6 separate regions of the Homo sapiens genome follow, and all the other regions are linked to region 1. The links come from fine-mapping of genetic effects on gene expression. A gene starts in region 1. Each other region holds a variant in brackets. All regions are shown on one strand. Distances are from middle to middle. Region 1 holds the start of PRKG2 (protein kinase cGMP-dependent 2). Region 2 overlaps PRKG2 (protein kinase cGMP-dependent 2). Region 3 overlaps PRKG2 (protein kinase cGMP-dependent 2). Region 4 overlaps PRKG2 (protein kinase cGMP-dependent 2). Region 5 overlaps PRKG2 (protein kinase cGMP-dependent 2). Region 6 has its middle 42 kb from the start of PRKG2.

Evidence for each region. PIP is the estimated chance that this variant, and not a neighbour inherited with it, causes the effect.
Region 2: its variant is fine-mapped to the expression of PRKG2 in thyroid (GTEx, PIP 0.94).
Region 3: its variant is fine-mapped to the expression of PRKG2 in whole blood (INTERVAL, PIP above 0.99).
Region 4: its variant is fine-mapped to the expression of PRKG2 in esophagus mucosa (GTEx, PIP 0.99).
Region 5: its variant is fine-mapped to the expression of PRKG2 in whole blood (TOPMed, PIP 0.98).
Region 6: its variant is fine-mapped to the expression of PRKG2 in lung (TOPMed, PIP above 0.99).

The regions. Positions count from the first base shown.
Region 1 is chr4:81,213,125-81,217,216 of GRCh38, forward strand. PRKG2 (protein kinase cGMP-dependent 2) reads right to left here and starts at 2,098. Exons shown (of 19, transcript NM_006259.3): 1 at 1,812-2,098. It overlaps LOC124900726 (a long non-coding RNA gene), which reads left to right and starts at 1,762. Exons shown (of 2, transcript XR_007058162.1): 1 at 1,762-1,834; 2 at 2,441-3,100. RefSeq lists enhancers at 1,130-1,630, 1,631-2,131.
Region 2 is chr4:81,169,297-81,173,388 of GRCh38, forward strand. It overlaps PRKG2 (protein kinase cGMP-dependent 2), which reads right to left. Exons shown (of 19, transcript NM_006259.3): 4 at 2,395-2,508; 5 at 367-472. All of the region lies in intron 1 of PRKG2-AS1 (PRKG2 antisense RNA 1), which reads left to right. Among named protein-coding and RNA genes, the nearest start is that of PRKG2-AS1, 6.4 kb to the left of the region's middle. The variant C/T (reference allele first, on the strand shown) is at 2,517.
Region 3 is chr4:81,158,503-81,162,594 of GRCh38, forward strand. The region is part of intron 6 of PRKG2 (protein kinase cGMP-dependent 2); the gene reads right to left. Among named protein-coding and RNA genes, the nearest start is that of PRKG2-AS1, 4.4 kb to the right of the region's middle. The variant A/C (reference allele first, on the strand shown) is at 1,717.
Region 4 is chr4:81,139,755-81,143,846 of GRCh38, forward strand. It overlaps PRKG2 (protein kinase cGMP-dependent 2), which reads right to left. Exons shown (of 19, transcript NM_006259.3): 11 at 3,040-3,193; 12 at 779-915. Among named protein-coding and RNA genes, the nearest start is that of PRKG2-AS1, 23 kb to the right of the region's middle. The variant T/C (reference allele first, on the strand shown) is at 2,360.
Region 5 is chr4:81,152,242-81,156,333 of GRCh38, forward strand. It overlaps PRKG2 (protein kinase cGMP-dependent 2), which reads right to left. Exons shown (of 19, transcript NM_006259.3): 7 at 1,403-1,480. Among named protein-coding and RNA genes, the nearest start is that of PRKG2-AS1, 11 kb to the right of the region's middle. RefSeq lists enhancers at 1,223-1,737, 1,738-2,251. The variant G/T (reference allele first, on the strand shown) is at 1,669.
Region 6 is chr4:81,254,715-81,258,806 of GRCh38, forward strand. No RefSeq gene overlaps it. Among named protein-coding and RNA genes, the nearest start is that of PRKG2, 42 kb to the left of the region's middle. The variant G/T (reference allele first, on the strand shown) is at 2,412.

The DNA.
Region 1 (4,092 bases):
GATTTACATATATTGAGTTTGAGATGCTTGTGGGTCATCATGATGCAAATGTCTAGCAGGTAGAAGCAAAAAAGAAAACTCAAGGGAAGAGATTGCTCCATAGAAGACTTGAAGTACCATTTGTAGATGAGATCACTAAGGGAGGTAAGAAAGGAATGTCTCTATTGTTACCTATGAACATATAGGTAATATCTGTGGATATTATTTGTGGGAGAAGAGGAGGAGAAGCAAACCACAAAGGAGAAGGAACACGTGTACCAATAAGAGATTTAGGAGAAGCATCAGAAAGGCCATGCAGATAAGATCCTTAAGAGGTGAGCAGGCTGTACCTCACATCCCACAGGCCTGTCACAGCAAATGAGATCAGAGAGAAAAGTGCTGAATCTGATTTGTCAAAGAGTGGGGATAGACACTCAACTACAAGGGACCATGGAAAGAGCTGACACTAAGAGTAGAGCCTGCAAGACGATATCATGATTCATGTGAGGGATTTTTAAAATAATGAAAATTTGAAAATGTCTGTAGCTCCAGGATAATGAAGCACAGGAGATATGAAAAACGAAAACATGGGAGAAGAAGAGATAATTCATAGGAAAAATAGCCTAGAGGAAGCAAGACAATAAGGGATCACAGGACTTGGGCAACAGCCAGGCAACATATGCCTTCACTGTGAGGTGAATTCTCATTAGCCTCACTTGTAATGACTTCATAGAACTGGAGTTAAGGATTTCACGTAAAAGAGAAAGATCCCTGGGCATCATCTTTTCAGGTCGTTTATTCTTAGTCATACAGCGTTCCAACGGAGAGGATGCACTCTAATTCTCCATAGAGAATTCTCTACCATATTAGCTCATACCCTCCTGTGCAAAACTAAACAGGAGTACTGAAAACAGCTAGTGTATGTTATGTGGGATGATCGCCTTCTTCATGAGTTAAATAGAAACTTGCAAAGAAAAGAGACAATTTCTAAGAAACTCTAAATATGGGGGTGTGGTGGGGTGGGGGCAGGTGTATGTTGCTCTCTTCCTTAAAAAAAAAAAAAAAAAGAAGGAGAAGAAGAAGAAGGAAAAAGCCCCTGGGAACTTGGGGAACAAGATGAAGATCAGGAAATCAAGGCATTTGTCCCAGCGTCACCCTTCCTACCTACTAATTCTGCATGCGTTGCTTTTATTGTCAGCTCTGGCCTCAGCTGCTTCGTAGTTGCACCGTAGTTCTTCTCAGAACTGAACCTATTTCTTTTTTTCTCATCCCCAAAGTGGCTGGTTTCTGGGCTTTGTTTGCTCTTGTTTCTTCATCACCGAGAAATACAGAAATATGAAAGCGCCTCACGGTGCCCAGAGTGACAAAAGGACACCCACACAAGTTTACCAGGACTCCTAAAAGTCCTTGCCTGAGGACTGTCCCCTAGCAACTACCCAGAGCTCGACGAAGCAAAGCCGGGAGCGCAAGCCCTGACAGCACCGCCAAGCCCCTAGCTCGGAGCAACAGCCTCCACCGCTTCTCCTCGCTAAACCTAGAGAACCCTGAGGACTCCCCACTGGGGCTGAGCCCCTCCCGCCCTCAACAGAACCTCTAAACACAAGTAGCCTTTCCCTGCCTCCAGGAGCTCACGAAACGCTGCCACACCGAGCGAATGCAACGCGTACACACGTCCACACTCGAACAGCACAAGCAAGAGACCGGCTGGGTGTGGAATAGAGGCGCACATCGCGCAACGCATTCACAGCATGCACACGCGCGCACCCCGACCCCGTCCCTCCCCGCGCGCCCTCACACCCCGGCGCCCAAGACCCCCGGCCCACGAACCTCACCAGACAGCCGGGTAACTTTCCAGGTGCGCAGCTTGTCACCTCGGCGCGGCCGCCCCTGCGTCTCAGCGTCCTCTCCCACGCCGCCCTCCCCAGCCGCCTGCGGCGCCGGAGCCCAGCGCAGGTCAGCTCAGCCAGCCCCGCCGTGCACACGGTGCGCAGCGTGGGCCCGGGGCTGCCGGCTCAGTCGCTCCGGCTACGTGTGAGCCGGGGGCGCGGGTTAGCGCGATGCGGGCAGGAGCTGCGGCGGCGTCGGTGCTGCCGCCTGGCTCCGCGGCGGGGGCCGGTGCAGAGGAGACACGCAGGGAGGGAGGGAAGAGAGGAGGGAAGGAGGAGGGAGGGGGTCAGCCGGGGCTACTGCCTGGATAGTTGGGCGCCGGCTTCCCTAAAGGTGGGGTCACCCGCGCCCGCACGCACACTAGCCCGAACCTTTACTCCCGACACAGCCGCAGTCTGCACTTTATACCCCATACCCTCCATAGTGAGGCAACTTAAGTAGGGCGATAACATCGTGGTTGTAAGCATTTTTGTTCATGTTATTATTTCTATTTCAAGTGTGTGGGACGAGGGGAGAGGAAAGTTCAGGGAGGTGTTCATTTTTTCCTTCCCCTCCCTTTCCTCCATCCTTCCAGTCTGTTTTCACTGCAGGCTCTCTCCACTTCGCCTTCCCTCCCAGAGCTCAAACAGGCGCACGTACCCTGGACATGCCCTCCTCTGTCACACCAATGCCTTTCTACGAAGACATGTGACCCCGAAGCAGCTCGTCGACGCGCCCCTCCCGGACTCTGGGGCCATAACTTACATCTAGTTTGCCAGTTCACGTGATGCTGGGGGCAGGGGTTGAATCGAGTTTCGAGGGACAGAGATTATACCTTCCGAATCTGCAGGTCTTTGGGAAGGGAGCTTTCTTGATCACCCAAGAAGATAATGCTCTCTCGTCACCTTTTGAGTACATTTTTTTTTCCTGAAGGGTGCAATATGGTTTCCTAAATATATATGTACACCCCACCGCATTATTTGCTGTGCTCTGGAGTTGTGAGATCTCCATGTGGCTTTTTCCCTTTCCTTCTGCCCCCAGAGGAATTTCACCAGCAAATTCACGGAGGACAAGGGCAGTTTCTGTGTTGAGAGATGGAAAGTATAGTGAGGGTCTATTCCTCACTGTGCATCTAGAGAATGTTACAACCAACTCTCTTGGGTTTTTAAACCACATGGTGGCAGTGGGGCTCATGTAACATTTGTATACACTGTTACATACATAAACTTATATTAAAAATGAGGCCCATGTAAAATATGTTGAATGAGACCATTAAGTTTCAGAGGAGGAGGAATATAGTCCTGTTTGTTTTTGTGCTAACTGGAGGAAAATCGCGAAAGTACACAAAGTACCTTTTCATGAAGCTATCCCAGAGTCTGTACATTTTATAAAGACCTCAAAAAAAAAAAAATTAGAGGAGAAAGGAGTGAGGAAGAATTCCACAAGAAAAGAGAAAATAAGTAATTGTATGTCACTGTAATAATGGACTTTTAAGTTGATGGGCTGAATTTTTATTAGCGATTTAATGACAAAAAGGAGAAAAACAGATTTTCAAAGTCTTCACTTTAAAAAAAAATTTCAGATTCAGGGGTACAAGTGCAGTCGCATTACACGGACATAACACATAGTGGTGAGGTCTGGGCTTTTAGCGCACCTATTACCCTAATAATGTGCACTGTACCTAATAAGTTGTAATTCCTACCTCACCCACCTCCCACCCTCCCACCTATTGGAGTCCCCAGTGTCTGTTATTCCATTCTGGATACTCATGCCTGCCCATTGTTTAGCTGCCACTTATAAGAGATTCTGCAGTTTTTGACTTTGTTTCTGAGTAATTTCACTTAGGATAATGGCCTCTAGTTCCATCCATGTTGCTGCAAAAGATATGATTTCATTGTTTTTGTGGCTGGGTAGTATTCCATTGTGTGTGTGTGTGTGTGTGTGTGTGTGTGTGTGTGTGTGTAGTACCCCTGAATCAAAAAAAAATTTTCCCAGTTTTTCAGGTGATAGGTACACAGTGTATGTGTGTGTATACCACCATAGTGTGTGTGTATATATTTTGTATATATATATATATATATATATGTGTATATATATAATATAAAACCACATTTATAAATCCAATCACCCCTTAATGGACACGTAGGTTGACTCCATGATTTTGCTATTGTGAATAATGCTGCAAAGTCCTTACATTTCATTGAGTCCTGGGCTTTTTTAAACAATGGGTTGCTAATTAATGGATTA
Region 2 (4,092 bases), 44 kb before region 1:
AGTACTTTTAGAAAGCTTGTCTTTTGGCTAACCACTTTCAAATTTCAAATGCCTTTCAAAGCCAACTGAGCAACCCAATTAATAATTTAGGTTTTTTGCACATTTTTCTATGCTGTGCACTATCACTCTATCAATACAAGGGCAAAAACTAGCAGGAGAAATAAATGAGTATACAAGGATAATAGAAATTAAATACAGTTTTTGGTATGTACTGGCATTTACTGCAAGCAATGTTCCTTTGGTTTAGTCATGTGGAAAATGCTTAAATGGAAGTAGCTATAGTTGAATAATTATTCTGATAAAACCAATATATTCACAATATGGCGACTCCACTGTCTTCACTGTCTCCCAATGTATTATTCTTACCTTCTGAGGAAGTTTCTGTATTGTTCATCTCTAGCTTGGGCTGTCCTCCTCATTATATTCTGGAATACCTCTCGATCTAGTGCCCATGTTTTAACATTGGTAATAGCTTTAGAAAATTCAAGAAAACAATAAAACACTTAGTACAACATTGTGAAAACATTCCAAAATATAAATCGATGGATTTGTTATATGTTCTTATAAAATGGTACTTCTTGGAAAATGTATTATTTAAACATACAAATGAAGGAGACAGAAAAATAAATAGTGAGCAATTTTATAAATCATTTTGGCTTTGAAATACACTATTATTTGGAAATGACTAGCAAAAAATTTCCTTTCTAATTATGTTACAGTTAGGATGATATTCAAATTAGTTTGCAATTCCCAATTATGCACTAGATCATCAGGATGTGCTCTAGATTTCTGCTGTAATACAAGAGAAAGGCAGTCAATTTGTAGCTAATCTGGAGAGTGAAGTCACAAACAGATAATTGAAAGTTAAAGCTATCTGTGTGTATGTGTGTGTTTTTATGTGTCTTTTTATGTTGTTCTGACACTGTTGCTAAAGAAGCTACATATTATTTAAGAATCTCTACAGTTACTTTTGTGTAAAATGCCTACAAATTATTTGAAAGAGACTATGAAAGAAAGTTTTTGAGATAATTTTTTTTTACAGTAAAGACTTAAGGGCAAGTATAAAATTTAAAAAGAAAGTGGGCCAGAAGTGGTGGCTCTAAAAAATCTAGATGAAATTGTGGTTGTACAATTTTTTAAAAACGAGTAACAAAGCCTCTAAAATTGATCAAAACCCAAAGCTCTGGATTACCAAACTTTACATTGGAATCATCTTGATATTCTTGTTAGAAATACAAGATCCCTGGGCTCCATTGCCAGAGACTCTGATTCAGGTTGGGAGTAGAGACCCAAAATCTGCATTTTTATCAAATACCTCAGCAAGGCTAACACATATAAACTAGTCCCAAACACTGAAAAACATCATATCTATGTAATTCAGAAGGAAACCCAAGATTGCCATAAAGTCAATAAAACAAATCTAAAGAAAAGCAAGTAAAGTAATCCCAAAAGTCATTCATGAATACTCTAATTACTCTAATTCATATTCCTTTTGATATAGATACATTTTCATTGGTTTAATTAATTTCTCTGGCTTATAATATGGTCAGAACCTCGTTGAGACTAGCTAGAAAGCAAACATTCTAGATGAGCCAAAGGCATGTGTCTATGTAGTAAAAAGTAAAGTGGCAATTAAAGCAAATATGGAATCAGTCAGCTTAAAGCCATTGTTTTTGGCAGAACAAACCTTTTTATTTTTATTTTTATTTTTAATTTAATTTAATTTTAATTTCCAGGATACACATGCAAGACATGCAGGTTTGTTTCATAGATAAACGTGTGCTGTGGTGCTTTGCTGCAACTATCAACTTAACACCTAGGTATTTAGCCCCGCATACATCAGCTATTTATCCTGATGCTCTCCCTCCCCCACCCCTCCCCATTGGGCTCCAGTGTGTGTTGTTCCCCTCCCTGTGTCCATGTGTTCTCATTGTCCAACGCCCACTTATAAGTAAGAACATGCAGTGTTTGCTTTTCTGTTCCTGTGTTAGTTTGCTGAGGATAATGGCTTCCAGCTCCATCTATGTCCCTGCAAAGGACATAATCTTGTTCCTTTTTATGGCTGTGTAGCATTCCATAATGTATACATACCACATTTTCTTTACCCAGTCTATCACTGATGGTCATTTGGATTGATTCCATGTCTTTACCGTTGTGAATAGTTAAAAGCCATTTTACATTTTATACACAGGTATCCAGAAAAGTTCTTTTTAGCTTAAATTATATAGGTAAGTGCTTCAGTATAAATCCCTTAATAGGCATAGCATTTCTATTATAAGAACATATAGGGTAAAATGGGAAACAGACTGTGGATCAGGGTGCAAATGTGACTGGACTAGATTATCTTTAACATGCCACAACAATTCAAAGATGGAGCATTTCCTCTTTTATTACCTTTCACAGAGGCAGTCCTTGTACAATTGTATAAAATGGCAAGCTCCCCAAATGTGGTCCACATAGGGATGGAGGACAGCAATTTCTCCCCTTGGAACACCTCTAGTCGACCCTCTATCAAG[C/T]AGAATTTTAAAAAACACACACACAAATAATCGAAATCCGTGTAGATACTATAAATTAGTAAAATAAAACAATCATAAAGCACACAAAGTATACAGGTAAGATATTTTATGATTCTCATTATAATACACCAGTTAAAAGTGTAGACTGAAATCACCTCTGCCACTTACTATTAGCTGGGTTGCCTTGAGAAACTTACGCTATCTGTCTGAAGTTCCTCATCAACGATGAGGATAATAATAATTATTATTATTATTTTACAGTGGCAAGAATGAAATAAGTTAATCTAGGTAAGGAATTTAGAACAATGGCTAGTGCATAGTAAATGCTGTGTGTTAGCTATTATTAATATTATTATTTTTACAATGTTATTTTCCTGAAGCAGTGGATGGCAAGTGTTTTGTTTAAAATTCATTATAACCTATGAGAAATGTAATACATGAAACTATTTCTCTTTTATGAGGAGCTCAACAATCACTGTATGTCATAAAAACACAGAGAAATTGTTCACAATGATGGAATGACAACCCGTCATAACCAGTAAGTAGATCAGCCCTGGAATCAGACTGCCTGGCTGTGTCCTGATTCAACTCATTTTTGCCTATGTGACCTTGGGCAAGTTACTTCATGGTGCCTCAATTGTTATCTAACCTCTAATTTATTTAAATGTAATACATATTAGTTACAAATGAAAATCACTAAGAAGAGTGTTTGGCACTTATTACCTGGGCAAAGACTGGAGGAAGGGAGAGGCAGAAGTTTGCATCCCCTTCACTATTTTTCTTTTTTTGCCTTGGCAGCTTTACTCTTCTTTTGCTTTGAACAAATACAAACAAAACCTTAACCAACTAAAAGCATAAGCAAAAAAGATCTAAGTTCTTAGAGGAAAAAAAAGTGATGGGGTAATATCTCCTTTCCTTAAAGAATTAGTCTTTCCTTTTCCTAATTCACTGCTAAGTAGCTCTGTATCATCTCTGTCCATCCCTTCATTCAGCAAAACTGATCCGAGTACCTATGTTGTGCTGGGAACTGTTCCAAGTGCCAGAGCCATAGAGAGGACAAAAGAGAAGATATCCTTAGCCTGATAGAATTTATACTAGCAAGGAAAAAAAACACTCAGTTCTGGCTCCAAATCCTAGAGGTTAGACATGCAATTTAAAATTTCTCATTAGCTAAATTCTATTCTATCAAAGCCACTTAGTGGTAGTGTCCAGTTGATATCATGAATCTTAATGCATTTCAAGTTTTTATCTTGAAATTGGTTATGGCTCATTGTGCCTGAGCAATGCTGAAGAATTATATGGAATATCAAAAGTTAAAGCTAAATATGCTTTTACTATTTGCTATTCATGCTATGTTTCATAAAGGGAATATTTTTAATTATCAAATTAATTTGCTCAACCAGATAATTAAACCAGGCAATTCAGTCCTTGGGTGACACTACAATTAATTCAAATAAGAAACCATCCAATTTTCATTTCCATGTGTGCCATAACTCTGATCTCAATAGCTGTTTTGATACTGACTTCTGTTCAACCTCTTCTCTCCCTGAGCCTTTCATCAGAACTACTTGGGAAG
Region 3 (4,092 bases), 55 kb before region 1:
GTGAAAATGGCCATACTGCCCAAGGTAATTTGCAGATTCAATGCCATCCCCATCAAGCTACCAATGACTTTCTTCACAGATTTGGAAAAAACTACTTTAAACTTCATATGGAACCAAAAAAGAGCCCGCATCACCAAGTCAATCCTGAGCCAAAAGAACAAAGCTGGAGGCATCACACTACCTGACTTCAAACTATACTACAAGGCTATAGTAACCAAAACAGCATGGTGCTGGTACCAAAACAGAGATATAGATCAATGGAACAGAATAGAGCCCTCAGAAATAACGTCACATATCTACAACCATCTGATCTTTGAGAAACCTGAGAAAAACAAGCAATGGGGAAAGGATTCCCTATTTACTAAATGGTGCTGGGAAAACTGGCTAGCCATATGTAGAAAGCTGAAACTGGATCCCTTCCTTAATCCCTTCCTTACACCTTATACAAAAATCAATTCAAGATGGATTAAAGACTTAAACGTTAGACCTAAAACCATAAAAACCCTAGAAGAAAACCTAGGCATTACCATTCGGGACATAGGCATGGGCAAGGACTTCATGTCTAAAACACCAAAAGCAATGGCAACAAAAGCCAAAATTGACAAATGGGATCTAATTCAACTAAAGAGCTTCTGCATAGCAAAAGAAACTACCATCAGGGTGAACAGGCAACCTACAAAATGGGAGAAAATTTTTGCAACCTACTCATCTGACACAGGGCTAATTTCCAGAATCTACAATGAACTCAAACAAATTTACAAGAAAAAAAAACAACCCCATCAAAAAGTGGGCAACGGATATGAACAGACACTTCTCAAAAGAAGACATTTATGCAGCCAAAAGACACATGAAAAAATGCTCATCATCACTGGCCATCAGAGAAATGCAAATCAAAACCACAATGAGATACCATTTCACACCAGTTAGAATGGCAATCATTAAAAAGTCAAGAAACAACAGGTGCTGGAGAGGATGTGGAGAAATAGGAACACTTTTACACTGTTGGTGGGACTGTAAACTAGTTCAACCATTGTGGAAGTCAGTGTGGCGATTCCTCAGGGATCTAGAACTAGAAATACCATTTGACCCAGCCATCCTATTACTGTGTATATACCCAAAGGACTATAAATCATGCTGCTATAAAGACACATGCACACGTATGTTTATTGTGGCACTATTCACAATAGCAAAGACTTAGAACCAACCCAAATGTCCAACAATGATAGACTGGATTAAGAAAATGTGGCACATATACACCATGGAATACTATGCAGCCATAAAAAATGATGAGTTCATGTCCTTTGTAGGGACATGGATGAAATTGGAAATCATCATTCTCAGTAAACTATTGCAAGAACAAAAAACTAAACACCGCATATTCTCACTCATAGATGGGAATTGAACAATGAGAACACATGGACACAGGAAGGGGAACATCACACTCTGGGGACCATTGTGGGGTGGGGGGAGGGGGGAGGGAGAGCATTGGGAGATATACCTAATGCTAGATGACGAATTAGTGGGTGCAGCGCACCAGCATGGCACATGTATACATATGTAACTGACCTGCACATTGTGCACATGTACCCTAAAACTTAAAGTATAATAATAATAAAAAATAAATAAATAAATAAAAAGATAATGTAAGATCAAGTGGAGACACATAATTGAAGACATAAAGAAAGCAGAACTCCTTTTGTCTTTGAAATGAGTATT[A/C]CACACCTGTTTTAGCATTTGTTTGGTTGTTGTTTTTGCCTATTGAAACTGTAAGCTTTTCTTACATTGCAGTCATAAACTGTAGAAAAGTAAGGAGACTTTTGCTTTATTATCTGCACTTATGTTTTCTTCTTTCACAGAGTAAATTCACCTGGAATACTGAATTTCAGGCATGGGGTCCAAAGATATAAAGAGAAATGAGAGCCAGGCAACAATCACCAGCTTTCACCTGCATAATCTAAATATAAACTGTTTGGTGATCAGCAACATTCTAAAAATTGAGTCTGGGCTCTAGAAAAAGAACAAGTGATTATATAATATCCCCAATGGATATTAGGAAAATTACCCTTAATTTCTAATTCCTTGAAAAGCAACCTCTTGGAAGATTCTACATTCACAGTAGGTAGTGCTGTCATAATGCAATATCCAAAGATTTGTCATCATAAAACATTGACATTGGAAATTTTTATGTGTAAATTCTATTATTTAATTTAGATCTATCCTCATGAAATCTTAAATTATTGCATATTTCTTTTTATTTATTAACATCTGTTTCTCTTGTAAATATTTATGTGATTAGAAAATTCTTGAGGAGGGAAAAGTAATCTATCCACCTGTCAGACCAAAAGAGCGACTAAATATCTCAGAAAACAAAGGATAGATTAAACTGTCCACCTCTACTTTGCTTTAATTTGATCTTGTCTTAAAGTCACAGAACTAAGATGGATCTCTTAATTATTTATACAAACAAAAGTGGCTTCTTTAATTTTTAAAAAGGCATAACTAACCACATAATTGCTCTCTCTTGTTTTTCTTTTAGACTTGAAAATAAATTCCAAACTAAACTACTTTTTTATCTGTTGTTTTTCAATACTTTCTTGATCATTTATTCTTAAAACCTATTTACTTTTCTGGAATAAATGTTACTCCTAATACTAACAAACATGCGTTTTATTTTCATAACACTATGTACATTTTATAAGATATGTCAATATCTCATGGAAGGAAGCATAATATTTTTGGAGTTAAAAAGTTCTTTGAAGCCAGACAGGTCTATATTCAAATCCCAGTTTACAAGAAATTTACTTTCCTCAACCCATAAAATTAAAGTAACAACCCATATCTTCAAAGATTTAGGAAAGCGCATTAGTTCTCTATTGCTGCTGTAACAACCAAAAACTTGGTGGCTTAGAGCCACATCCTTTTATTATTTACAGTTTCCGTGAGTCAGAAAGCCTAGGCACAGTGTTGCTCAATTAGGTTTCTCAGTTAGGGTCTCTCAGGATGGAGCTCAAGGTATCAATAGGGCTTATGTCATTCTGGAAGCTCAGGGGAAAATTCATTTTCAAGGTCATTCAGGTTGCTGGAAGGATTCACCTGCAGGATAAGATCCCATTTCCTTACTGACTGACAGTGGGAACTGCTCATGAGGTCTCTCCCATCCCTGCAGAGAGCCCCCTCCATCTCAGAACCAGTGATGGCATGTTCATTTCTTACCCTCAGAGTCTCTCTGGATTTCACTTCTGCTGCATCTCTCTGACCCCAACCAGAAATAATTCTATGCTCATGCAACTATATTCAATAGTTCATTCACCTAGCCAATTAATGATAATCTATTTTAAAGTCCCAAACTTTAAGCATACCATTAAAGTCCCTTTTGCCATGTAATATAACATATTCATACATTCCAGGGATTAGAATCTGGATATCTGGAAGGGGGGGTGGGGCAGGGGACCATTCTGCCTACCACAATAAGCCAATGAAAGGCAATGTTGCCTGAAATAGTAGGAGCATCTAAAATATAGTAAATGCACAATTAATTGTTGCCATGCTAAGAAGGAGGATGATAATGATTTGCTCAGCTGTTTCCTACATCTTCTGGACCTCTGTTTCATTTTCTGTAAAATTAAGATTATATTTACTACTACACCTAATGTTGTTTGAGGACTAGTTAAGACGGTGTATCTAAAGTACCTGATGGAATGTTTAGTGCACACCAGGTACCCGGTGACTGTTAATCTTACGAAAGAGGCTGTAAGCTGGTCACGAAAGTCTTCCAGAGGAATATATGATTGTCCAGGTAAGTTACACTTGCCAGCCTTCCTGCTGTTAGCTATGGCCATGTGATGAACTTTTATCTAAAATAATCTGAGTGGAAGTGATCTGTGACAATTCCACACCAAGCCCATGCATGCTTTCATGCATGTGTCTTTATACTTTTTCCCCAATTATAATGGCATGGCCCACACAAACCTGGAAAACCACATGTTGAAAATGGCAGAGTAGACATCAGCTTGGATTCCCAAATGACTGTGTGGAGCCAATTGGGACTATCTTTCCTGGACAGTTATGTTAACGAGTGACAAACTTCTGTTT
Region 4 (4,092 bases), 73 kb before region 1:
ACACAGCTAGATTCCGTCTCAAAAGACAAAAAAAAAAAAAAAAAAAGAATCAAAACAACTGGAAAACATCTGACCCCAGATCTCAAACTTCTAACATTTTTAGTACTGTTGCTGTGACTGGGTTGGAGAATCCAGAGTGGGGCCTCCTCCACCTCTTCTTTCTGTCATCTTGCATGGAAAGTTTAAAACAAGAGCCGAGTACTACTCAACCATACAAAAAAAATGAGATTCTGTCATTTGTAACAACATGGATGGAACTGGAGGTCGTTATGTTATGTGAAATAAGCCAGACAGAGAAAGACAAACATCACACGTTCTCACTTATTTGTGGGATCTAGAAATCAAAGCAATTGAATTCATGGAGATAGAGAATAGAGGAGTGGTTACCAGAGCCTGGGAAAGGTAGTGGGGAGACATGCAGGAAGGGGAGATGGTTAATGGGTACAAAATAAAATAGAAAGAAAGAATAAGATCTAGCAATTGATAGCACAACAGGGGCATCATAGTAACAATTTAATTGGACATTGTAAAATAACTAAAATAGTATAAGTAGATTGTTTGTAACACAAAGGATAAATGCTCAAGGGGATGGATACCCCATTTTCCATGCTGTAATTATGCATTGCATGCCTGTATCAAAACATTTCATGTACCCCATAAATATATATGCCTACTATGTACCCACAAAAATTAAAAATAAAAATAAAAATAATTTAAGTAAATACATAAATAAAGAGCCTGAAAATCCTAACTCCTTGGAAGCCAAGTGGTCACTTACTTCACAATGAATGGAGAGCACAGCTCCTCTAGGATCCTCTTCTCTGAGTAGACATGCTCCTGCTGCTTGGTGTCAACTATGTGCTTCTTCCTTATACACTTCATAGCAAAAGCAACATTCTCATTTTTTACTTTAACCTATGTAAGAAATGGAAAGATACCTCAAAATTAACTTATATCTATATAAAACACACTAATCAATGAGAGTTAAAACTGTTTCATGTTTAATTAGTATGGAAGCCCTTAGCCACTTATCCCTTTGAGAACTTTCATTCAAGTGTACACACTTCCCTTTCATCACTATTTCTAGAATAGTTCATCTATCTGGGATGTGGCTCTAAAATTTTTGTATTAAAGCAAAATAAAATTCTGTTAGACTTAATATTTAGATAGCTATTCTATTTTTAATTGGGTGACATTAAAAACTTTGACTAGAATTGCCTTTTTTTATTATTCACTTTGCTTTCAAAGCAAGATTTATTATTATTATTATTATTATTTTAAGACAGGGTCTCACTCTGTCGCCCAGAATGCAGTGGTGCAATCAGGGCTCATTGCAGCCTTGACCTCCTGGGCTCAAGCTATCCTCCCATCTCAGCTTCCTGAGTAGCTGGGACTACAGGTATAAACCACCACACCCAGCTAATTTTTGTATTTTTTATAAAGGTGGGGCCTCACTATGTTGCTCAGGCTAATTTCAAACTCCTGAGCCCAAGCAATCCTTCCACCTTGGCTTCCCAAAGTGCTGGGATTATAAGCATGAGCCACCGCACCCAGCCTAAGCTCTATATCTGTACCATCCAATATGGTAACTGCAAATCACATGAGGTTATGTAAATTTAAATTAAATAAAATTAAAAATTCAGTTCCTGAGTTATACTAGCCACTTTTCAAAGGCTCAACAGTCATATCTAGTTAGTGGCTACCCTATTAAATAGCACAGATATAAGACATTTCCCTCAGCACAGTTCTATTAAACAGTACTACTCTAGATGCACGATCAAGTATTTCCTAAAAAGGAAATAAACATTTTAAAATAATTTTTTGATAGATTTAAAACTCCATAAGCAGACTATGCTAGATAAGTAACTACATTGTGCAGAAATGGCTGCACTCCATATTTTGCTCATGTTTGCCATTAGTGCTGCCCATGACTTTTAAATCAATGGTGGATTTACTGCTTCAATTATTATTAGAAAACAGATCTCAGCTTTGTTAATTGAATCCTTTTGCCACAAACTTTGACGAAAAATACCACTGCAGACAGGTATTATCTTTATCTCTCCATAAGGTATAAGAGACATTACACACATTATTTATCCTAAGGAACATCTGTCCCTGCCCCCATCAGAGATGAAGCAAGGACTGGGTCTGAAGTGTACTGTCCAGACTCCCCTGACAGCATTTCAAATCTGCTCATGCCCAAAGCCAGCCAGCAGACCAACAGGTCAGCAGAGTTCCCAGAAGATAAGGTATGGTGAATCCTTAAAAATCTGATGGGCAAAGAAGGACTCGGTAATTGCCAAGGCCTCAGAGCCATCTGTACCCAGTAAGGCCACAGATCTCTATTCCACATTTTCCT[T/C]AGAATACTTGTTTGACAGTACCACTTTTGCTACTCCTTGGAAGCTGATAGCTCAGAAAGAGGGTGATGTGGAAGGCACAACTAAAATCAGGCTGTAAGTTCCCAGATATCCTGATCAACACTACAGAAGGCTTCTCTTCAAATATTCCCTTTCATTCATCTTCTTTTCTTTTCTCACAATACGAAATTTTGAGCAACCCAAAAACAAAATAATGAAGGTGAAATACAGACATGGTACTGGAGTTGTTTAAAGAACACAACTATAACATTGAATATTTCACCTCTATGGCATTTTCACTTGACACATTCTTCTTTTCTTTAGTGTATAGAGACTAAATGTGTCATGAATGTATATAGACACGCATTTGCTGTTAGAAAATACATTATTTTATGTTTCCTTTTGGACGTGCTTACTTAGTATATTGATAATCATCGAGAAGAAAATTCACAAAAGACGTGATGTAAGCTTGAACTAGCAGTTGATTATTACAAGTTACTTACTAGCACAGACCTGCTACTATACAATATACAGAGTGAAAAGTTTACTTTCTCAATTTCAGTTCAAAGCAACATTTAAGATAGCAGTAACAATTCATATATTCCTCCAAGATATGCTGGAATATAAAACAAAAAAAAAGTCAAAAGGCTTCTCTCAGATGCTTGAAACGTAAACCCCTTACAAGCTCAACTCTTCCGAACCCACCAACGCCCAGTGTTGCAATAATCTCAAGGTTCTGGAATGGGGATGATGAGGAAAATCTGGCCACCTTCTCCTTCAGCTGAATCATTTCCAGAGAGAGTGCTTTGGACAGCTTCCAGTTAGACATGGACCGCCTGTACAAGAGAAGTGAAACTTTACACACACACACCCATAATTAAGAAGGTGTCATGCCATACATAAATTTCACTCCTACGACAGTCTAATTTCTGCTGTAACTATGATTTATAGTTGCCACAAAGGCTATCCCAACTTTTATGGATCAGATTCAGTCCCACGCAGCGAGAAAACAATAGAATATACAAACATAAAACTCACACATATGCATATACCAGGAAATAGACGAATGCCAAGTTGAATCAATGAGAGGTAAAATGGGTATAGTTTGTGGTACTTAAAATGTACCTCTTAGGTTTCTTCTCAGTGTGGAAATTTTTTTTAACTAAAAATATATATACCTCAAAAAAGCTGTTAAAAAACAACCATGAAAAGCAGTCAATGAATGGGAATGAAACAAGGAAGCCACTTCCTTTGCTGCATGTACAGGAGAATGCCACATTGACAATCTTTCCCACGTTTTGCTAGTTTTATCAGATCTTGAAGCTTTGCATGGCTGAACCAAAATAACTGCTTTGTGAAATATGAAAAGTACATTTCTTACTTTATGTCTAAGTAATATCCATTTTTTTCTCTTTTAATTAAGGTTTACCGGTCTGGGTTACATATTCATAAATTATTACCACAAAAGGCCTTCAGCGTAAAAATTGCAAAAACATATGAAGTACTGATTGAATATTCTAATTTAATTCAAATTTAAGTTTTCTAAGAATTTTGACTATATGGCTTTGATAGCACTATCTAGTGAACATGTGCTTAAGCATTCACTCTAAAAAAATGTTTCAGCAAACAACTTTCAAATAATTTTCATTTAACAAAAGTAGAGTTTTCTAGTACACACAAAAAATTAATCACTATTACTACATTTAGAGACCTACCCAACCCCCTCCTCCACATA
Region 5 (4,092 bases), 61 kb before region 1:
TCCTATGGTCTAATATTATCAAATAACTACCCACTGTAAGAGGAAAATTCACCATCTAAACTCCACCTCCTAAAGTTAAATTTTAAATGTGAATCCAGTGATTCCTTCTGAGAGATCCACAAAGCAAATAATAATGGTCTTGTGGGAACTTTTTCTATTTTAAAAAGCCTAATATAGTTGACAAATTAATCAAAAATAAGGTTGAGTATCAGTAGTTCTGAGTCTGGTATCAATAGATTGACTGGCCGAATCCTGTGCACCTCCTAAAACTGAATGCAAAATGTTGATTGAAGAAGGGTCTACAACTTTCATGGGCATCTCAAAGCAATCTGTTGCCCAGAAAGGCTTAAGAACCCCCCACCCAGCAGGGCCAAACAGAAAAAGCCCTGTTTGTGGCTAGAGTTATTCCAATTCAACATGGTAACAAGTGCTGATTCAGGCTGAATAGAAATTCTGTTTGGCATTTATGTATGTCACAATGAATTAAAATTTTAAAAATAAAAAATGCAATTTTTTATCACCAAGAATTATTTCAAAGTATGGGGTCTAGGTTGGGAAAAAATGACAAGAAGTAGTTCCTAGTGTTGAAGAGTTTCAGAGGTTTGAAACTATTTTGTTCATGTTTTTCCTTCACTTGGGGCCAAATTCAAAGTTCAACCACAATCCAGTTTACAAATGGCAGTGCCTGACTCCCTGATGGTAAACCCTTCCATATAACATATGTAAAAATCTGACAGTTTATACACACAGGTGCTCAAGAATTGGCCCTTCCCTTCAATATTTCACAAATGCTTTTCATCTCTGAGTAATACTGTTGAGTCAACATTGGAACAACTGGCAACATGTTATCCATTCAATATCTAGGTAAAGAAAAAGACTTATTGTACATGTTAGTATAAATTTTGCATCAGCATCTAAATTCACTTGAGCTGTTTTGTATCAATTGAAATTCTGAGCCATATTGGTTCTATAAGCCTGATACCTAATCATGACTGTCTTCAATTGCTGAATTCATTCTCCACCTGCTACTTGTCATATCTATTGGATAAGAAAATATTCTAGTACTGATCTTGGAATCTGGGGATGATTGAGAATCACATAGTCATAGCCAGAAGGGACCTTATAAATAATCCAGCCATCTCATATACAATTAAGCTAGGTCTCTCCCCAAAAAATCAAGTGACCTACATAACATCACTAAGAAGTTATTATTTCTTAGGGGGTCCTGTGGCCTCCACTCCAAAGCCAGTGTTCAAACAGAATTGCATGGGACTCTACTGGTAGAAGCTCCTTTATCTGTCCAAAGTGGAGGACCTATGTTGCAATGCAAAGCATAGTTGAGTTTATGGCAAACTGATTTAAAATAATCTTTTTTATTTAGTAAGTTTTAATTAATAGTTACCTTTCCTTTTGCCAAAATGAAAAAGGTACTTCCTTCCTCGCCCTCTCTAATGATGTAATCTCCTTTGTCATAGTATTCCTGTTGGGATGAGAGAGAAAGAAAATGTAAGAGCGGGTGGAGCCAAGATGGCCTAATAGGAACAGCTCCAGTATACAGCTCCCAGCGTGAGCGGCGCAGAAGACGGGTGATTTCTGTATTTCCATCTGAGGTACCGGGTTCATCTCACTAGGGAGTGCCAGACAGTGGGCACAGGTCAGTGGGTGCGC[G/T]CACCGTGCGCGAGCCGAAGCAGGGCGAGGCATTGCCTCACTCAGCAAGCACAAGGGGTCAGGGAGTTCCCTTTCCTAGTCAAAGAAAGGGGTGATGGACAGCACCTGGAAAATCGGGTCACTCTCACCCGAATATCGCGCTTTTGGGACGGCCTTAAAAAAACGGCGCACCACGAGATTATATCCCCGCACCTGGCTCGGAGGGTCCTACGCCCACGGAGTCTTGCTGATTGCTAGCACAGCAGTCTGAGATCAAACTGCAAGGCAGCAGCGAGGCTCGGGGAGGGGCGCCCGCCATTGCCCAGGCTTGCTTAGGTAAACAAAGCAGCCAGGAAGCTCAAACTGGGTGGAGCCCGCCACAGCTCAAGGAGGCCTGCCTGCCTCTGTAGGCTCCACCTCTGGGGGCAGGGCACAGACAAACAAAAAGACAGCAGTAACCTCTGCAGATTTAAATGTCCCTGTCTGACAGCTTTGAAGAGAGCAGTGGTTCTCCCAGCACGCAGCTGGAGATCTGAGAACGGGCAGACTGCCTCCTCAAGTGGGTCCCTGACCCTGACCCCCGAGCAGCCTAACTGGGAGGCACCCCCCAGCAGGGGCACACTGACACCTCACACGGCAGGGTACTCCAACAGACCTGCAGCTGAGGGTCCTGTCTGTTAGAAGGAAAACTAACAAACAGAAAGGACATCCACAGCAAAAACCCATCTGTACATCACCATCATCAAAGACCAAAAGTACATAAAACCACAAAGATGGGGAAAAAACAGAGCAGAAAAACTAGAAACTCTAAAAAGCAGAGCGCCTCTCCTCCTCCAAAGGAACGCAGTTCCTCACTAGCAACAGAACAAAGCTGGACGGAGAATGACTTTGACGAGCTGCGAGAAGAAGGCTTCAGACGATCAAATTACTCTGAGCTACGGGAGGACATTTAAACCAAAGGCAAAGAAGTTGAAAACTTTGAAAAAAATTTAGAAGAATGTATAGGCCGGGCGCGGTGGCTCACGCCTGTAATCCCAGCACTTTGGGAGGCCGAGGCGGGCAGATCACGAGGTCAGGAGATCGAGACCATCCCGGCTAACACGGTGAAACCCCGTCTCTACTAAAAATACAAAAAAAAAATTAGCCGGGCGTAGTGGCGGGCGCCTGTAGTCCCAGCTACTTGGGAGGCTGAGGCAGGAGAATGGCGTGAACCCGGGAGGCGGAGCTTGCAGTGAGCCGAGATCCCGCCACTGCACTCCAGCCTGGGCGACAGAGCGAGACTCCGTCTCAAAAAAAAAAAAAAGAAGAATGTATAACTAGGATAACCAATACAGAAAAGTGCTTAAAGGAGCTGATGGAGCTGAAAACCAAGGCTCGAGAACTACGTGAAGAATGCAGAAGCCTCAGGAGCCGATGCGATCAGCTGGAAGAAAGGGTATCAGCAATGGAAGATGAAATGAATGAAATGAAGCGAGAAGGGAAGTTTAGAGAAAAAAGATAAAAAGAAACGAGCAAAGCCTCCAAGAAATATGGGACTATGTGAAAAGACCAAATCTACGTCTGATTGGTGTACCTGAAAGTGATGGGGAGAACGGAACCAAGTTGGAAAACACTCTGCAGGATATTATCCAGGAGAACTTCCCCAATCTAGCAAGGCAGGCCAACATTCAGATTCAGGAAATACAGAGAACGCCACAAAGATACTCCTCGAGAAGAGCAACACCAAGACACATAATTGTCAGATTCACCAAAGTTGAAATGAAGGAAAAAATGTTAAGGGCAGCCAGAGAGAAAGGTCGGGTTACCCTCAAAGGGAAGCCCATCAGACTAACAGCAGATCTCTCGGCAGAAACTCTACAAGCCAGAAGAGAGTGGGGGCCAATATTCAACATTCTTAAAGAAAAGAATTTTCAACCCAGAATTTCATATCCAGCCAAACTAAGCTTCATAAGTGAAGGAGAAATAAAATCCTTTACAGACAAGCAAATGCTGAGAGATTTCATCACCACCAGGCCTGCCCTAAAAGAGCTCCTGAAGGAAGCACTAAACATGGAAAGGAACAACCGGTACCAGCCACTGCAAAATCATGCCAAAATGTAAAGACCATCGAGACTAGGAAGAAACTGTATCAACTAACGAGCAAAATAACCAGCTAACATCATAATGACAGGATCAAATTCACACATAACAATGTTAACTTTAAACGTAAATGGACTAAATGCTCCAATTAAAAGACACAGACTGGCAAATTGGATAAAGAGTCAAGACCCATTAGTGTGCTGTATTCAGGAAACCCATCTCACAGGCAGAGACACACATAGGCTCAAAATAAAAGGATGGAGGAAGATCTACCAAGCAAATGGAAAACAAAAAAAGGCAGGGGTTGCAATCCTAGTCTCTGATAAAACAGACTTTAAACCGACAAAGATCAAAAGAGACAAAGAA
Region 6 (4,092 bases), 42 kb after region 1:
CTCAGTGTCTTGTATGTTAAAGGTTCTTTAAAATGTTTGTTGAATGTATTGACTATAAAGGAAAAAGTGGACATAATGGTTTTTCTGATAATTTTTTATAAAAATATTGTATGATTTAAAAGTATTAAAGTTGTAGAAAAGAGAGTTTGTTGCCATGAGGTATTTATCTATTGTACTACAGATTCTTTACATACTCAGTAGTGATGGCTAGTCATTCTTTAAGTTGAAAAAAATTAATATAAAAGTGACTCACATACTCACTGACAAAAACAATGATCATACCTGCTGATTTTTATGAATTCTTCAAATTTAAGAGTCTTTAGAAACCCAATTAGGGATAACTCAGATGTATGATTGAGCTGAATCAGTGACACACATACAAAAGAAAAAAAAAGCTATATCCCTCCCATCCTTTGTTGATCACAAGTTAGTAAAACATGAACCATGGTGAATATCTTGTAGTGACTTAGAAATGTATAGTTGAAAGCACTCAATAAATACTTAACAGATGAACAAATATGCTTAACACAAGCAATAAAACAGGTCACAGAATAGTACTTTTTTTAAATAAAAAAGAAGTATATAGTTATATAGTAAATAAAAGAAAAAAATTAAACAAGAATCTTACAAATGAATGACTCTGAGTGGTGACATTTTTGGATGTTTCTATTAACTTCATCATAATTTGTTAGCTTTTTCCATGTTTTCTACAGTAAATATATATAATATTTGAAACCAGGAAAAAACAATATTTTTAATCCTCTAGCCACATCCACATCTTCCAGCTCTGCCTACACCAAAAATCAGCAACAGTAATCAAACAAAAAAATTAGGTTTGGATACGGGGAAATAAAAATGAAAATAACAGTTATTTTACTCATTGAGATGCCATTTACAATTCAATCCATTACAGAGTAATCAGCTTCTGAAAGCTTGAGCTTATGAGTCAGGCAAACCCAAGCACTAAGCTGTTATGATAAAGATGTAACCAAATACAAACCATGTGGAGCCAAGATGATTGTACAACTTGATTCTTTCCTTAGCACTCCCATAGAGCCCATGACCTGATGACAAAGGGCACTGATGATCAGAAATAAGTAATTCAGAGAATCTGTGCTGACCCAATTGCTCAGATTTCTCAAGGAAATATCCTAACTTTTCTCCTTTAGAAATTCACCTTTGGCAATAAAATAATTGGAAAAAATAAACCTCACTTCAACCTCACCACAGGGAGAGAGGGATGGTCTGTAAGGCACAACATTTTTAGGTAAGCTTAGTATTAGCCTCTGTCTAAAATTATTTGAAATGCTTAGCAATATTTATTTTTAAAATATATTTGTCTTTATATCTGTATATTATACATATAATAGCCCTGAGAAATTGGTAGGGCAGATATTATTATCCCTAATTTACTAAGATAGAATCTGAAGTCACCTTCCGTCCCCTTGAAGCCTAGCTGCATTTTGAGCACTGTCCTTTTGACCTTGTATTCCAAGTGCATTCCAGCAGGTGTGGGCTTAAACACCCGAGGGATGGTCTGTGCACTTTGCAAGCTGAGAGGAAATAATATTGCTCTACCACTTCAGAAAACTGTTGAGTGCCCTGATCTCCTGAGAAATTCTCCCAAGTGTTTAGCAGAAATGCCCCACCCGTGAGTGCAGAATGGAGCCATGTGCCCCCGACTCACACTGTGGCCCTGCTTGCTCTTGCACCACCCATCCATCTGGGTGGTCTTCAGGGGAAGCCCTCAGAGGAAGACTGATTGAAACCAGAGTTGCTGTGCCACCCACACCAATTCTAGTTTCTGAACGCAGCCAGCTGAAGCATATTCGCTATCCTAAAATAATAAAAACAAATTAATGGAATTGACTCAAGGGAAATCAAGTTCCACTTATAGGCCTAGTGGCAGAAACAGCTGTTAAAATTCATTAAATTGGAAGCTCCTGTAGTAGCTTCTTAAGAATATTTTTCAAAGTCTTTGGACCACTACTATAAAAGACCAAGTTAAACATTATTCATCAGGAAGTGTTTTTGTGGAAGGACATGGAATGCATTTGGAAATCTGCATAGCATGTAAGATTGTGGCTGGATCATTCGCAAAGTTTGTATTTCATTAAGCTTTGATAGATAAGCCTGTTGTAATTTGAAAAATTAAGATCAATCTCCGCATTAAAAATCCCCAAAGCATTTCCACTGAGTATGAATTTCCTTATCACAGAACTTTCTATAAGATATTTACAGATTTTGACAAGTCTGGCTATGAATTCTACAATAAAACTCTTAGTTAATAATGGCAACGATTTAAAATCTAAAATTTTTTTTCAAGAGTTGTTTATATACCTTTTCTTCTTTCAAAGGTATTTCTATGCTGTTAAAATAATTGTACTTTTTGTCTACATGAACTATCTTAA[G/T]AATTTCTATGTCAATAATAAAGGAATGTGTCTGATAACCAAAAAAAAAAAAAAAAAGTAGAGTTTGGATTGGATGACATCCAAGGACTTCTTTGACTTTTGATTCTAGAAACTAGAATTCCAAGGGTGCTATTCACATCGGTAGCAGCCAGCTCTCTAGATGCAGAGTTAAGGCCAACCAAATTCATTCTGCAAGAATTGAGGATGCCAACACTGACAATTAAGTTCCTAAATGTATCCATTGAGGTGGTTTGATTACAAATGTCAAAACTCAAATCTGACTAACTACAGGTAAAAGGGAAATAATTATAAGGTCCTGGTGGGGGCTCCCAGACCCAAAGGGAAATCTACAAAAGCAGAAACCTAAAAGGACAGGAATCAGGGCATTTGGAGGATCTAGGTAGCTAGTCTTCAGGATATTGCAAGAGGACCCACTGGCTCCAACCATTTTTCTTCTGCTCTTTAACCACTGGGCTCAAGAGCCTGGGGGGATAGTCCATTGTTTATATAGTGGATTGATATTCAATATCCATTCTGCCCTCATCTAGAGTCCCTTCAGTCATCGTTAAGGCCAGAAAGCTAAACATTATATTCCATAGTCTAGTTTGCAGACAGTGTTCCAGAAGGTACTTAATAATATTCAGCTAGTCACATGTGTTCATGTGAGATCAGAAAGGCAGAAGTGAGGTGGAGGCCACATTTGTGCTGCTTCTGCAATTTCTGGTGCAGAACATAAATGGCAAGGTGGTTGATTTTTCTGCAACAGCTTTAGCTGAAATCCCAGTAGCTAGCCACTTGTTAGATATTGAGAGGATGGCATGGGTCATCCATTTTGTTGGTGCAGTCCCAGCAGGCATGTCATGGCTCTGGGGCCAACAATTGTGGCCATGGTTTCTTATCTGTCAGTCACAGCTAACATGCATATTTCTGGTACCAATGATTACAACGACAATCAGAAGTTGGCATCGTGGTTCCCACTTCCGTGGCTTCCTGATGTTAACAGTTCTCTTTGCAGACTGTTACTTGTTATATAACAATTATTTTTTTCTGCAAATAATTACTGGATACTCCATTCTCTGTAATAAATCCCCTTCTGCTTAAACAGGTAAATAGTTCCATTTTAGTCCAATTGGCCATCATGGCTCATATGCCTACCCCTTGGTGGGGCTGATTGGCAGCCCCACCAAGATTGGCAACCCCATCAAGTACACACAACGGAAGAGGGAAAATTTCCCAGAAGAAAATAAGATGCTCTTATCAAAATAAAAGGGAAAATTGACTGTGAGTGGCAGAAAATAACAACCAACCATCCTGTAAATAAATACAAAGATAATTAATCAACATCATTTTCAGGGTGTCTTGTAGGCCCATTACACAAAGCAAAGTTTTCTGAAGTCCTGAAATATTACAATACATTATGAAAGCTTAACTACCCTAAGGCAAGGAGTCAGGGAATGCTTCAGAAAAAGACATCTGATCTCAGTCTGAAGGATCAAAGAAATATGAAGGTCTTTCTAGGTAGTGGAAAATTCATGTCTTAATTGGCACTCTGTGTCTGTATGTGTGTGTGCACACATGCTCACGCACATGTGTGTTGAGTATCTAAATAAAGATTGAAGAGTGGATTAATTAGTAAAGAGGAAAGTTTCATTTTGAGCATTTCTCTCACTAGCAGTTGTAC